Linked DNA regions of Homo sapiens: region 2 is linked to region 1. The links come from fine-mapping of genetic effects on gene expression. Tissue or cell type: prefrontal cortex. Region 1 holds a variant in brackets; the other region holds the start of a gene. All regions are shown on one strand. Distances are between the middles of the regions.

What was found. PIP is the estimated chance that this variant, and not a neighbour inherited with it, causes the effect.
Region 2: it holds the start of ADAMTS20, and the variant in region 1 is fine-mapped to the expression of ADAMTS20 in prefrontal cortex (CommonMind, PIP 0.95).

Annotation. Positions count from the first base shown.
Region 1 is chr12:43,443,900-43,452,011 of GRCh38, forward strand. ADAMTS20 (ADAM metallopeptidase with thrombospondin type 1 motif 20) reads right to left here. Exons shown (of 39, transcript NM_025003.5): 15 at 2,696-2,813. Among named protein-coding and RNA genes, the nearest start is that of ADAMTS20, 100 kb to the right of the region's middle. The variant T/C (reference allele first, on the strand shown) is at 3,509.
Region 2 is chr12:43,547,538-43,555,649 of GRCh38, forward strand. ADAMTS20 (ADAM metallopeptidase with thrombospondin type 1 motif 20) reads right to left here and starts at 4,666. Exons shown (of 39, transcript NM_025003.5): 1 at 4,294-4,666; 2 at 3,372-3,733. The coding sequence starts at 4,384.

The DNA.
Region 1 (8,112 bases):
CATATGTTAAATTTCACAAAAAGCAGATGGCCCAGAGGTTATTACTGCTGAATGGATGAAAAATTCGAATAGCATAGTCAGACTTAATTTTGTTGTGTCTTTACAAAATTACACAGTGGTTATTCTTTTTGAGTCAGTACCTTACACAAATTACTGAGGATTGAGAAAAAGTGGTTGTTGTCAAGAAACAGAGTTTAAGATTCTTAACTTTTCCTAATCTTTTCCTACTTCTAATATTCTTAATATAGAATGGAATGAAGCTAGTATTTTAGCTCCTGAGACCCTTAGTACACATACCCATTTTTAAGCTTTGTTAATGCTTTTATATTTTATACTGGGAAAAAAATAGAAGATTTCAAATACAATTCACAAGTCCAGGAGATATTAAAATAATTGGTCATTGCTATGATATATTCACACAGACTCAGTAAACAGCAAAATAATGAAATTTTTCAATTTCATTATTGAAAAATCATAAAAAAAGAAAAAGTTTAAAGCTCAAGTTTTAGTTTGTAGTATAAGCAGGAATCTCTTCATCTATTCCCCAAATTTTACATTATTTTTACAAGAATACTAATAAACTTGTTATGAGAAAAGTAAAAAGTTTACTCAAGTGAAATGAATGTAATATTTCCATTTTATGAAGCCAAATTCAGCGACATTGGCACTGCTCAAAAGAGGAAACATTTTATCTAACATATATTAAGAAAAAACATTTTCATGAAAACTAAAAACACTCACATTACATAGTTGTCCAAATACGCAGGTTTTTAAATATACAATTAGTTATACTCTAAGGATATTATTCTAAGTTTTTCCTTTTCCTTATTTATTAGGATTTCCTCCTAGTTAACTGCACCATGAGTAAAAAGTAATTTTTCTCATACACTACCTTTGATAAATATGGAATTAACTTAAGAAGACAGTTCAAAAAGAGCTTAAATTTACAACCCTAATGTCAGACTATCTTGCATGTGTTTTAGAGCAGACTTATTTATATCTAAGGCATCACATTTTTAGTGTAAGACGATAAGAAATAGTTTCATGATTCGGTATACACTATATGCCTACTGGTTGTAGGTTATTGACCTACAAGAATAATTTTAATTAACCTCCTTTTCACTATAAAATATTCTTACCCACTACTTTTACTATTTATATCTTTACTATTTATTATATTTTTTTCAAGAAAGCAAGCCTAAGGCATTGCAAAGGTGACAAGATGAAGGCTACCACCAGGGGGCAGAAATGTGACAAATGCTAATCAGACCTTGCAAATGAGTTTAACGCATTGTTCTATTTGCAAACTGATTAATGCACAGTACAATTTTCACAAGATTACATATTTGATCTTAATTTGGTTCATGTGGCTTTATCCTGGAAAAAATATTTTTCAGTAAATACAGACTGTAATAAGTATGTGCCATGCATTATAGAAGGGAATCAAATGTGTGTAGCTCCCAAGAAATAACTAGAAAAATCATATATCAAATCATCTAGTAACCGAGATTTGTAAATATCAGAGTATAAAATGTACTATGTTTTTCACATACATAAAAACATAAATATTAAGTTTTAAATTATACTGTTTTAATGGAAGTAAGTAACAATTTGAACACACATGAACACAATTTAAAGCTGAACAGTCAGACTGTAAAAAATAGGCTAGGTGTGGTGGTTCATGCTTGTAATTTCAGGACTTTGGGAGGCCGAGATGGAAGGATCCCTTGAGGCTAGGAGTTTGAGACCAACCTAGCAATACATTGAGACCCATCTCTACACACACACACACACACACACAAATTAGATGGGCATGGTGGTGAACACCTGTAGTTCTAGGTACTGGGGATGAGGAGGTGGAAAGATTGCTGGAGCTCAAGAGTTCACAGCTGCAATGAGCTATGATTGTGCCACTGTACTACAGCCTGGGCAACAGAGTAGCACCCTGTCTCTAAATAAATAAATGAATAAATAAGGTTGTAAGAAATAAATTTAATTTGCAAAGAAAGTTTTAAAGATCTGCTTTAATTATCATAAAAACAAAAAAAAATTGCCCAGAAAACATTACAATGGAAAATACTTTACATAGTCTCATGATATTTTGGAGAAAAATTAAATTATGGCCAATATGTGATCCAGATACTGCCTGGAAAATCAAATGTGACAATAATTCTGAAACATTTAATTCAGAAAATATATAAGATAATGGTTTCACCCTTCACCTTCAATCAACATTTTCTATGTACTATTAATAAGAAATGTAACAGATAGGTCAAGTCATACCAAAAAAAGAAAGTGATTCAAGTAATGAAAATATTTGAAAGCAAGTTTCCTGGGAAAAATCACAAATATATACATTTTAGGTTATAGGGAAAAAACCATTTCATTAATGGGAGGATTATTCACATATCACACATCACAGTCAAATAGCACTGAATTTACTCTAAGAAATGCACCTAATACATTTTTAAGAATCAGATTTGCCTGGGGCAGGTGAATTCATTAATCAAGGATACATCTGGTCTAATACAGTATTTAATTTTTTTATATTTAGGAAATTTTTCCTTAACAATCATTTTGGACTAAGGGTATAGAGTAGACAAAACAGTAACAAAGAATTACTGTTACACCTTCTTTACAGACTCCATTATTATACTAAATAAAAGCGAAATCTAGAAACAAATACACAACTTACCATAATGAGAACTGTTGAAGACACCTGTTATTGTCTTGCATGAAGAGTTGTCCCCACCACACACTCCACATTTGTCTATCTTGGCACTGGAGTTTAACACGTGATCACAACCAGCTGCCTTCAAGACACAATTACAATCAATATTATAAGAATGACTAATTATGAAGAAAAGAGAGAAGATCCAAATACATACAATCAGATATGACAAAGGGGATTTACCACTGACCCCACAGAAATATAGATAACTCTCAGAGGCTACTATGAACACCTCTATGCACATGAACTAGAAAACCTAGAAGAAATGGATAAACTCCTGGACACAAACACCCTCCCAAGACTGAAGGTGGAAGAAAGAGAATCCCTGGACAGACCAATAATGAGCTCTGAAATGGAATCAGTAATAAGTAGGCTACCATCCAAAAAAAGCCCAGGATCACACGATTCCCAGCTGAATTCTACTAGATGTACAAATAAGAGCTGGTACCATTCCTACTGAAACTATTTAAAAAATTGAGGAGGAGGGACTCCTCCCTAACTCCTTCTATGAGGTCAGCATCATCCTGATACCAAAACCTGGCAGAGACACGACAAAAAAAAAAGAAAATTTTAGGCCAATATCCTTGATGAATACTGATACAAAAATCCTCAACAAAATACTTGCAAACCAAATCCAGCAGCAAATCAAAAAGCTTATCCACCGCAATCAAGTAGACTTCATCCCCGGGGTGCAAATTTGGTTCAACATATGCAAATCAACAAATGCAATTCATCACATAAACAGAACAAAATACAAAAATCACATGATTATCTCAA[T/C]AGATGCAGAAAATGCTTTCAATAAAATTCAACACTCCTTCATGTTAAGAGCTCTTCATAAACTAGGCATTGAAGGAACATACCTCAAAATAATCAGAGCGATCTATGACAAACCCACAACAGCTATTATACTGAATGGGGAAAAGCAGGAAGAATTTCCCTTGAAAACTGGCAGAAGACAAGGATGCCCTCTCACCACTCCTATTTAACATAGTACTGAAAGTCCTGGCCAGAACAATCAGGAAAAAGAAAAAAAGAAAGGGCATCCAAATAGAAAAAGAGGAAGTCAAACAATCCCTGCTGGCTGATGACATGATTATATATCTAGAAAACTCCATAGTCTCGGCCCAAAAGCTCCTTAACCTGACAAACAACTTCAGCAAATTTGCAAGATACAAAATCAATGTACAAAACTTACTACCATTCCTACACACCAATATTAACAAACTTGAGACCCAAATAAGGAACACAATCCCCTTCACAATGGCCACCAAACGAATAAGATACCTAGGAATACAGCCAACCAGGGAGGTGAAAGATCTCTACAATGAGAATTATAAAACACTGCTCAAAGCAATAGAGATGACACAAACAAATGAAAAATACTCTATGCTTATGGATAGGAAGAATCAATATCATTAAAATGGCCATATTTCCCAAAGCAATGTACACATCCAATGCCATTTCTATAAAACTACCATTAATATTCTTTATAGAACTAGAGAAAACTATTTTAAAATTCACATGGAACCAAAAAAAGAGCCTGAATAGCCAAAGAAATCCTAACCAAAAAGAACAAAGCTGAAGGTGTCATGCTACCCAACTTCAAACTATACTACAGGGCTACAGTAACCAAAACAGCATGGAACTGGTACAAAAACAGACACACAGACCAATGGAACAGAATAGAAAGACCAGAAATAAGTCCATACAGCTACAACCATCTGATCTTAAACAAAGCTGATCAAAACAAGCAATGGAAAAAGGACTCCCTATTCAATAAATGGTGCTGGGATAAATGGCTAACCATATGCAGAAGACTGAAACCGGAACCCTTCCTTACATCTTATAAAAAAATCAACTCATGATGGATTAAAGACTTCAATGTAAAACCCCAAACTATAAAAACCCTGGAAGACAACCTAGGCCATACCATTCTGGACACAAGAACTGGCAAAGATTTCATGATGAAGACACCGAAAGCAATTGCAACAGCAAAAACTGGAAAATGAGATCTAGCTAAATTTAAGAGCTTCTGAACAGCAAAAGAAATTATCAACAGAGTAAATAGACAATCTACAGAATGGGGGAAAATATCTGCAAACTATACATCTGACAAAGGTCTATTATCCAGCATCTATAAGGAACTTAAATAAATTTACAAGAAAAAAAAACAATCCCATTAAAAAGTGAGCAAAGAACATGAACAAACACCTTTTAAGAGAAGACATACATGCAGCCAACAAGCCTACAAAAAAAGCGCAATATCACTGATCATTAGAGAAATGCAAATCAAAACCAAAATAAGATAGCATCTCACACCAGTCAGAATGACTATTATTAAAAAGTCAAAAAATAAAAGATGCTGGAAAGATTGCAGAAAAGAGAACGGTTATACACCGTTGGTGGGAGTGTAAATTGGTTCAACCACTGTGGAAAGCAGTGTGGCGATTCCCTAAAGAGCTAAAAACTGAACTACCATTCAACTCAGCAATCCCATTACTGGATATATACCCAAAGGAATATAAGTTGTTCTACCATAAAGACACATGCAGGTGTATGTTCATTGCAGCACTATTTACAATAGCAAAGACATGAAATGAACCTAAGTGTCCATTAATGGTAGACTGGATAAAGAAAATGTGATACATATACACAAAGGAATACTATGCAGCCATAGAAAAGAATAAAATGACGTCTTTTACAGGAACATGGATGGAGCTGGAGGTCATCATCCTTAGCAAACCAACACAGGAACAGAAAGCCAAATATTACACGTTCTCACTTGTAAGTGTGAGCTAAATGATGAGAACATATGGGCACAAAGAGGGGAACAACACACACTGGGGCCTGCTGAGGGTGGAGGGTAGGAGGCGCGAGAGGATCAGAAAAAGTAACTATTGGATACTAGGCTTAGTATCTGGATGATGAAATAATCTGTACAACAAAACCCTGTTACACGAGTTTACCTGTATAAAAAACTTGCATATATACCCCTGAACCTAAAATAAAAGTTAAAAAAAAAGAATGACCAACTATAAGCATGGTGCTTTAAAGTTTACAAAGTTCTTTTCACAAATATCCTTTCAATTAACAGGAGATTCAGTACAACAGAATTGTTTCAAAATATATACTCATCTAGTTGTATGTAACATTTTCACATATTCATTTAAAAAGCCAAGTTTATTAAAGGGTCATCCACAGACCTCCTGCATCAACATCACATGGGGTGGTATTTAAAAAGACAGTATCCCAGATCTTCTGAATTATAATACTTGGAAATAAAACCTAGGAATCTGCATTGTAACACTGACATTGATTCCAATACCCACTGTCATTTGAAAACCACTCTTAAAAGAAATGTAATTCAAAGAGACTAAAGTATGAGTATGTAAGTAACACATTAGAATACTCCAAAAAGATGACTTCCATGGTTATTATTTTAACTCATGACCTTAGAACTCTGCAAATAGTCTTAGCTTCAAATAAGTATTTAAAAGTAAAGTTTTCTCTAAAACTAATACCCAGCATAACAGTGCTTATTTTTAAAAATGAATGAATAAATGAATGAATATACAAGTAGATGGCTTGTTCCAGAAATTTCAAAAAAACAAATGCAGCTCCTCTCCATGAAGAAGCTGTCCTCTGCATACATTGCAATAACTCTTTCCATTGTTTGGAATGGCCTTCTAAATTTAGTGATCAGCAAAGAAAATTTCTTAAGCCTAGTGAATTTTTTTATACACAAGGCAGATATTTTCAAAATCAAAATGTTAAGCATATATTTTCTGAAAGTAGCATGCCTCTATATGTTCAGATAATCTTCATCATAACTTTTGCATTGTCATATGACTTTATGCTGCTAATTTAAAGCACAACTTTTTTCAGGCCACTGAATAACCTTTTCAGTATTTAAACTGTTTCCGACTTAAATTATTTTAATTCTCTTTGAACATCTCATTAGCTCTTTGGGTGAACAGCCTTTATCACTGAGATAAGGTAAAAGGTATTTGTTCATGGGGAGATGAAGTTGGCCCTATAGAGCTCCACTTTAACTGAAGGAATAAGTTCATAACTTATACTTATATTTTTAATTATTTTTTATCTTTTATTTTCAAACTGACAGATAACATTGTATGTTTTTATCATGTACAACATAATGTTTTGAAGAATATCAATACATTAAGGAATGGTTAAATCTAGCTAATTAACAAATGCATAACCTCACATAGTTATCATTTTTGTGGTGACAGCACATAACATCCACTAAAAATAGAACTACCATATGATCCAGCAACCTCACTACTTCCAAAGGAAATGAATTTAGTATATCAAAGAGATATCTACACTCCCATGTTTATCACAGCTCTATTCACAATAGCCAAAATATGAAATCAAACTAAGTGTCCATCAGTGGATGCATGGATTTAAACAATCTGGTTTATATACAAAATGGTATATTATTCAGCCATAAAGAAGAGGAAACCTTGCCATTTGTGACAACATGGATGAACCTGGAGGACACTGGGTTAAATGAAATAAGCCAGACACCAAAAATCAAATACTATATGATCCCATTCATATGTGGAATCTAAAAAAGTTGATCTCATAGAAGTACACTTACTATATTCTTTAGACCACATTCACTATCTTAGTTCTCAAACTCGCCATCCATTCTCAAGACTGCCATTGCAATGTTTGTGCTTTAACTCAGCATCTCATCTGCTCTGACCTACAACCCTGTTAAATGGACCACCTGCCTCCAATCTTCTAAACCCAGTATTTTGAAGATTCCAATATGCAAATCGAATCACATCTCTCCCTTGACTTCAAATGCTTCTATGTGTTTCCAAGGAGTTAAGAAAAAAAAAAAGTGCATTTGACAACCATCTGCTAGTCCCTAACTCCAACTCTGCTCCCATACTTCCTCATCTTCCTAAAACCTACTCATTTCAATACTTAGCACAAGTCTTATGCGCTCCATAAAAGGTTCTCTGAATCCTTTACCCACCTCCCCATAAAATAAGAAACTCCTTTCAATATCTCCATGCTACCTTGCAGATGACCCATAGCAGTGCATTCTAATTGTTTACATGCCTATTTCCCCCACAAATCTGTGACCATCTTGGAAGTGGGGTTCTCTGCTCCAGTCTTTTATCCTGGTGACTTGAACAGTATCTGACATCTAGTAGCTACTCAATCAATGTTTGTTGAATGTACATAAAAAATAAGTGACAGAGAGCTGGAAAGAGGAAGGGAGAATATCAATGGTTTCAACGGACAAGGAAAACATTACTGTAGAAGCTTACACTTAAAGTAGCAAAATCTCCTTACAATCCTTTTATCTTATTATTTTCTATCTTTTTAGGAAGCTGACCTCATTC
Region 2 (8,112 bases), 100 kb after region 1:
TCCCTACACACATCAAATTTAGAGGTGTAGAAGAGTTCGACAAAGAGAGGAACTGAATCCCTCTTGACTCTCAAATGCCATAGAGGGCTTGAGGCCTTTAGAGGGGTCTGCAAGAAGAGCAATAGCATCACCAAACCAGTTTACCTGGAGAAGGTGATGCAGCAGGACTTTGTATTTGAAGGCTGCACAATGAATCACTGAGACAAGAAATCAAATGGATATTATAGCCAGAATTCAGAGGGATATACAGCACTAGTGAGAGCCCAGAGGAGGATGAGTCAAGACCAGTGAGCTCTCATTGAACTAGGAGAAAAAAGGCCATAAGTTCTCAGGCCCAGAAATCAGCTGCTGTTAACAGAAAAGTACAATGAAACTATGGCACAAAGAACATCACCAGAAACTTGAGGAACTGAAGGACGGTACAATTTCCTCACCCCTCTCCCAAACAATACAAAGACCTCATAACACGTTATAACCCTGTATATAGTCAGTTTCTATCAATGGTCAATGAATTCTTGAATCCACCAATATATGAAACAACACTCATTAGCAGAAAAAGAAATGAAATTGGATGCTCATTTCAATATACTCAGGAAAAACATTTAATAAACTACAACATCCATTCATGATTAAAAGCAAAACTAAAGTAAAGCAAAAAGCGACTAGAAAAAGAAGAGAACATCTCTAAATTAATAAGACTAGCTCTGAGAATCCTTCAGCAAACTGCAACCTTAATGTTTAATGGACTGAGAGGCCAAAGTCAGATATCAAGTACACAAGGTGACAAAGATAAACTAGGAAGCAAGTAGGAGCAGGGCCATCAGGTTAGCATTATTGAATTCCCAAGCTTTGTATCAACATTGATCTGCAAACAATTCATCTGGTCCAGGTTTCGGATACTACAGTTTACCTAGATACAAAGACTAAAGGCTGATCTGAGACTAAAAAGGGGAATCTGGTATAATTACAAATGGATTCTAAAATCTACCAGGTTCTATTATTTGATGAAACTATTAATCCAAAGAAATTTAATCGTAGAGTCAGTGTAGAAATAAATATATATAATCATAAATAGGTAGCTAATATCCGTTTTAGTGCTAATATAAAAAAAGCAAAATTTTTAAAAAGTCACTAATCTCATCAGTAATTTAGACTTACAATTGATTATGATCACACTACTGAAAAAAATGTAGATCTTGATACCTCTAGTTATTTCCAATGTTACTGGAAAATTTCTGTCTCTACAATGATTGAAGTATGCAACTAAGCCTTATGCAAATACAGAGAAATTATGTAAAATAAAGCTAAGTTATGGAGGTATGAAAAGAAACGTTTAAATGTTTTATCAACTACTTCTGATAATATCAATAAATTATCAAAAGCAAAGTACATAAATGGGATTATTTACTTGCCATTCAAAGTATGACTCCTATAGGTGATTTTTCCTCTTCAAAAATTTAGTAAAAGAACATTCAGAACAAATCATTTTATTTGTTTGTAATTTCTAGTAATCCCTCAATTAAATTAAATAATTTTGTTCTGAATGTTTTATTATAAAATTTATATAACATAAATGATTGATTTCATTTTTTATTAATGAGTACATTGCTAAAGAAGATAAACATTGCTGATTAACTTACACATAATATATTGTATAATACATTATCCACATAAATGAGGAAATAATAAATCTTCACACGTAACATTATAAAAATATTAATATTAATTTTTAGATATGTTAATAAAATGAACTAGGTTATAAAACAAAAAAAGTATGATGATGACTTGGGCAACTGTATCCAAAATGACACAGTGACTAGAGAGTTATGACTCAAAAATCTTTAACTGCTTTCTGAATTCAAAAAGAGGATATTGATCATAAATATATATACCTACTATGTACCCACAAAAATTAAAAATTTTAAAAAAGGATACTGAATAATAATTTAACTACATCAACATTATGAATCAAAATGAGCAGAAACAGCATTCCCTATAATGCCTTCCCATCTGGAATGCTTTTCCATGAGAAAACATAATGACCATGACAAATTTGTGGTAGCAAGTCTAGGATTTTCCAGACAAACTAAACATTATTTTAGAAAGGTTTTAGAAGGAGAATTTTTTATCCTTTGAAGTATAGGTGGCTATGTAAATATTAGAGTGTGATTCTGCCATTGTGATGTTGCAAATATTTTACATGGAAGAAAGAAAGGAAATGGTTCTAGCCATTTCATGTAAAAAACAACTCAAGATAATCACTTGAAAAAGAGCTCACATCCAGGAAGACATCTTAAATCAGTTAAGCTAAAGGAGTATTACATTTGAACTGCAGAGAAATGTTATCAATTTTTTATTTAATCAAAGAATAAACAGTGTTGATGTTCTAAAAATATCTTTGAACACCTTCCAGAAGTATCTTTTGTAAAAGTATGTATCTGCTAAACAAAAGCTAGATACTTAGGAACTGTAGAATCCTGTAACCAAATTCCTAGTTCTTGTTTTTTCTTGAATATGTATTTGTCAGAGGAGTTACTGATGGAGTGAGCCTATATATGTTTTAAAACAACTGTCCTTACCCTGGGGTTCCATGAACTTGGATGGAAAAAAGGTACATCTTTATTTTCACTAACCTCTGATACTGAGCATTTCCTTCAAGTATGAAGGTAGGTGAAACCACAGACACTGTGGCTTTATCACCAATAAAATGATACTTTTATATCACATTATGGTTGGTGTAGCTATGTGTCAACTGATTACCACCACAAAAATATAACAGACATAACCAATAGATCTCTGTAGGTAGACTGTTTTCAAGTATGATGCATTTTAAACAGATTCAACCTCTTCCCTACTCTACTTCACAGGCCATCCCCATACCATCAACAAAATGAACTTTTCCTATTCTGACCTTGCCAGTGGGAGCCATTTCATTTTATGTATATTCATTCTCCTTTCCTTCTATCAAATTCCAGAAACAAACTTATCTAAGTAAATCCGGGGGATTCTGCCTCAATAGGACCACGAAAGGGTACATCTGAGTCAAACAGCCTGCCCTCCATTCGGAAAACACACTCCATTGTAACAGTGGTCCCACAGGCCACTCCCTGATCACCACTCCAGGGATGATGAAAGAGCATCTTTCATCAGCGTTGCACAGAGGGTCGGTTTTGCCCAGCAGGCAGAGACCTGCTCATCCTGCCACCAGAGCCTTCCGAAGGAGTTGCCTCTGGCTTGGTGTTAATCCTTCTTGTAGCCCAACCTGAACTCCAGGGTCATCAGCCACCAACTCGAAAACCCAAGGCCCCGTTCGCTGAATGTAGCCCTTGCCTGGATCCCAAGAAAATGCCAAGGGACCCGAGGACACTCACCAGGCCTCCGCATAAGCTGACGACGGCCTTGTAATCCTCCTGTGAGTTGACCTGGCCGCGGTAGAAGCAGTGGCGCAGGTCCGAGGGCCCTGCGTCGCTCTCCCAGGCCCCGCGCTCCGGGGTTCCCAAGTGCACCTCGGTGTAGCCGGCGGCCAGAAAGGATGCATCGGCGGTCAGGTTCAGCTGGAAGAGCTGCCCGTAGGCAGTGAAGCGATAGTGGGTTCGGAACGGCATGGGTTCCAGCGCCTCGGAGCTGCGTTTCTGCCGGCTGAAGTGGTGGCTCTGAGGGAACACTTCTCCAAACTCATTGACCCGCTCGGGGATCACTACTTCGTAGGAGGTCAGTGTCCTCACCAGGGCTTCTGCAACAACAGCGACAGGACCAGTGAGCTCCCACGCGTTCCTCATTGTCCAACTCTAAACTTCTTCCACCAAACGTCCCCGCTAAAGGTCCCAGGTCCCAGTACAGCCAGGGGCAAGACAAATGCACACATGCTGATGCGCACGCACACACACACACGTGCACTGGGACGGTTAGTGCTCTGCTTTCCCACACCCCCAACTTGCCCTACCCTCCCCAAGCAAAGACCCTACCACTAATGGCCCTAAGCAACCCACTTCCTTCCCCAGTACCTCCTAACCTCCCCGCAGCCCCCAACTCGTTCCCTCCGGGTGCAAGCGACCCCCTGCCCCTTGCGCCCCCGCCGTGTGGTCCTGGGAGTGCGATGCGTCTTAGGCGCGCGCGATTCCTCGAAACCCGGCGCAGTCGCGACCTCTCCGGCTGACTGGTCCGGGAGTCCCGGGAGCTCCAGCAGGGCCAGCGTTCCCCAACGGGCTGAGCCGCTCGTCCCCGCGACCTGCATGTCCCACTCGGGCCCCGCGCCCCCACTTAGCCGCTGAAGGCGTCTCGCGGTGACTTTACCTTGCCTGGGGTGGAAGTCAACTTCCCAAGACCTGGTGATGAAGAGCGAGAGATGGTAGAGCAGCCCAGTCAGCCACTTGGCCACCCACATGGTTCCACCCTGGGGACCCCGATCGGGGAGGCCCACCAGAGCCGCCGGCAGCCAAGCCGGCTTCCCTCGCGCTCCGATCCCTCTCCTCCCTCTCGCCCGCCGCTCTCCGCGCCTCAGCAGCCTAGGGAACAGCAGCGCGGGCCCTGGGCCGGCTGGTCCAGCCACACCGCCTGTCTCCGCTCGCTGAGCCGCTGCTTCATCGCACTGCAGCCTCACCCCCCTTCCTGCGCCCGCGCTGCCCTCAGAAACTCTCTGCTCAGGTTCAGCTCGGCGCGGGGAAGCAACTCGACCTAGCAGGAATGGTGCCAATATAGCCACCCCGGACCGGCGAGCGCCGCGGAGAGCCCGCCCCTATGGGCTGTTCCCGGCCAATCAGCGGGAGGCGCGGCCCCTGCTCGCTTTTCCCCGCGCAGCCCCCTCCCTTCTCCACTCAGCCGCAAGGGGACTGCGGTACCCTTCTGCTGCCCCAGTGGGCGCGCGACTTGCTGAGTAGCCCCAAGGCCCGGCTGGGCACCAATTCCGGACCTATGAAACCGAGCGAGATGCAAGCACCCGCGTACGTGAAAGGTGCCTAGGGTTTTGAGCTCTTAGATGAAATGACAAGCATCAGATAGAACGTTTCTGTTTTTTATGTTTTACGGTACTTTTAGGCTTCTCAAACAAAATAAAATAAGCTACAACGGAAGTTCTTGTAGGCAGAGGATGCTACCAATGAAGCTCAGTGACCGGGCCTCACTTGCATGGGCCCCTGTGTGTGCTGGGAGTTGCCGGGAGTTGAGTGCCATAGGTGGGGCGAGGAAGCCGAGTTTGCACACGAGCACTTCTGACAATTGCCGAAATAAATTCAGAAAAGGATCTGAGTCTCCAAAGTTTTAGTAACTTACTGTGGTTTATTTTTCTTCTTTTAATATTCATATTTGTACTTAATTTTGTATCAAGAGCCCTCCAAAATTATATAAACGTCAAGAGCCACAAAACTTGGATCTGCCCTGCCTGCGAGAGTTTTTGCCGTTAGTTCCACAGTATTCATATACACTTTGTTTATAATATACAAATAATCCCGTATATTCACAATTATCCTCCTCTACAATTACTGTGGCTCTGAATCCAGTTGTCTCCAGGTGTCTGTTAAATTGAATACACCACAGTGGTAGCCGAAAGCAATTATTTTAGTACGATTTCTCATTTCTCAAATCCACCTGTTTGATTTGCAGGTTACATAATTACTTTTCTCTATATCCAGTATGAAAGCAAAGGGGGTGGGAGTAGTCAGATTGTCTTGAAATCCAACCAGGGGAGAGAAAGAATATAAGAAAAAAAGGAAAGGAGTATATGAGTAAATCTTCACACACACAATGGAAAACACTTTTAATTTAGTTCCTGACTGCTCTACCTCCTCTGAGCTCTCAACAATGGAAATGCTGCACTCTTTGAATTGACCTCTGATGGCATGCCTCTTCACTTTTATATCATACACTTGGTCATCTGTTGTTCACCACAAATGTGGAACAATCTTGTTCAATGAAAGAGGGTTTAATCTTACATCTCCCAGGAAATCACCCAGCTTGGTGATAGTAATTCTTCCATAATCATTCCCATTCTTTTGTACTCTTTTCTCACAATGAATGAAATGGTGACATTTCATTCACCAAAGAATTATAGACTTCTGGTGGGATTTTTTTCCTAAGCTAAACATAGTATTAGGATTTTTTTCCTAAGCTAAACATAGTATTATTCTCAACAAAACAAAAATGGACTTTACTCACACCTGTCTATTTAGTGGTTACCTTCAGTACATTATAATTGAGTCATTTTAATTACATTGCAGCTCTGAATGTGTCTTCACATTAGGAGCCATACCTTCTCTCCTACAAATACCGGAAAATAGAACTGCACCTGTTTAATTGGCGATCTCATTGCTGACTACAGGGAAAATTTGATATTTCATTTCCATCACTGAATGTTTGTAACTCAGGGCAGTATTTACAATCAAGCATTTGATTTTCAGCTTGCTCTAAGAATGGGGCGAGGGATTTTTTTTTCTTTTTCCTTTTACCTTTTCTTTTTTTTTTTTTTTTTTTTTTGAGATGGAGTCTCGCTCTGTCACCCAGGGTGGAGGGCAGTGGCACGATTTCGGCTCACTGCAACCTCCACCTCCTGGGTTTAAGCAATTTTCCTGTCTCAGCCTCCCGAGTAGCTGGGACTACAGGCACTCACCACCACGCCTGGCTAATTTTTGTATTTTTAGTAGAGACAAGGTTTCACCATGTTGGTCAGGGTGGTCTCGAACTCCTGACCGCAGATGATCCACCCTCCTAAGCCTCCCAAAAGTGCTGGGATTACAGACTAGAGCCACAGTGCCCGGCATCATTTTTCAAATAAATGACAAGGTATGTGGGGTGTGTATACTATATCATTATTATCTTTACAATGTTCAGTAAAATGTATTGTTTTCCTCATTTCATAGAAGATAGATGCTACATTGTCATACAGTATCTAAGCTGGATTTCTACTAATCCTTTCTGACTCCAAATGCTTTTTCATTATACTGAGCTATAAATGTTATTGATATTCACATTATCTCTCTTCTTTCTTCCTACTCTGCTAATGAAAATGTCATGAATAAGCTAATCTATGCCATTTAATTCAAACTATTTCCTCACATGGATAATTAGAGCTATCACTTATGGAATTCTTTGAAATGTATGAAATTTGAAACCAAAGAGATTTGGGTCTAACTTGATGCTAATCCAGAATGAATTATATAATCTCTCTGAGCTTCATGGAGGTAATAGGTAAGTTAAATGGTATGTCAGAGGAATTTCATAAGTGGTACCTGATCCTAGTGCTCTGAGAGGCAGAGGTAGGAAAATCATGTAGGCCAGGAGTTTGAGACCAGCTTGGGCAACACAGTGAGACCTCCGTTTCTAAAAAAAAAAAAAAAAAAAAAAAAATTAGGCATAGCGGCACTTGCCTGTTGAACTAGCTACTGGGGAGACTGAGGCAGAAGGATCATTCCTGAGCCCAGGAGCTCAAGGTTACAGTGAGCTATGATCACACTACCACTCCAGTCTGGGCAACAGAGTGAGATCCCGTCTCTAAAAAAAATAATAATAATATAACATAATAATTAATAAAATATTGTTTGATTTGTAATTGAGACATTAATCATTATAAACACAAGCCATGTGATCAGTTTTTGGCACAGTGTGGAGAAAATATATTCAATCCTGCAAAGGAGAAATATTCTCACTATACTTAGGGGTTAATAGACCTTGTTTTATAATCCTAGTTCTACTGTAAGCAGCTGTATAACGTTGAACAATTTGCCTAATGTAAGCCTACTTTTTCTCAGTTGTAAAATAAAGTTAATAATAGTAATCTCGTGCAATTGTTAAGATGATTAAAAGAGACAATACAGGTAACATTCTTGACATAATACTGAACAAACTATGTTCTCAATGCATATTTATGCTGATTATGGAATACTGAATGTTCATACTAAAAGGAACAACTCTTTGAATATATACTGCTTTTCTAATATTAATAGGTAGGAATTAGGAAGGTCAACTTCATGATTTACCTGAGACTGGGGAATTTCCTAAGGTGCAAGATTTTCATTGCTGAAACCTGGGAAGTCTTTTGAAAACTAGGATTAGTTTGCCACTGAAATTCAAGGTTTCTCAACCAAGGCACTATTGATTTTGGGGTTGGATAATTATTTGTTA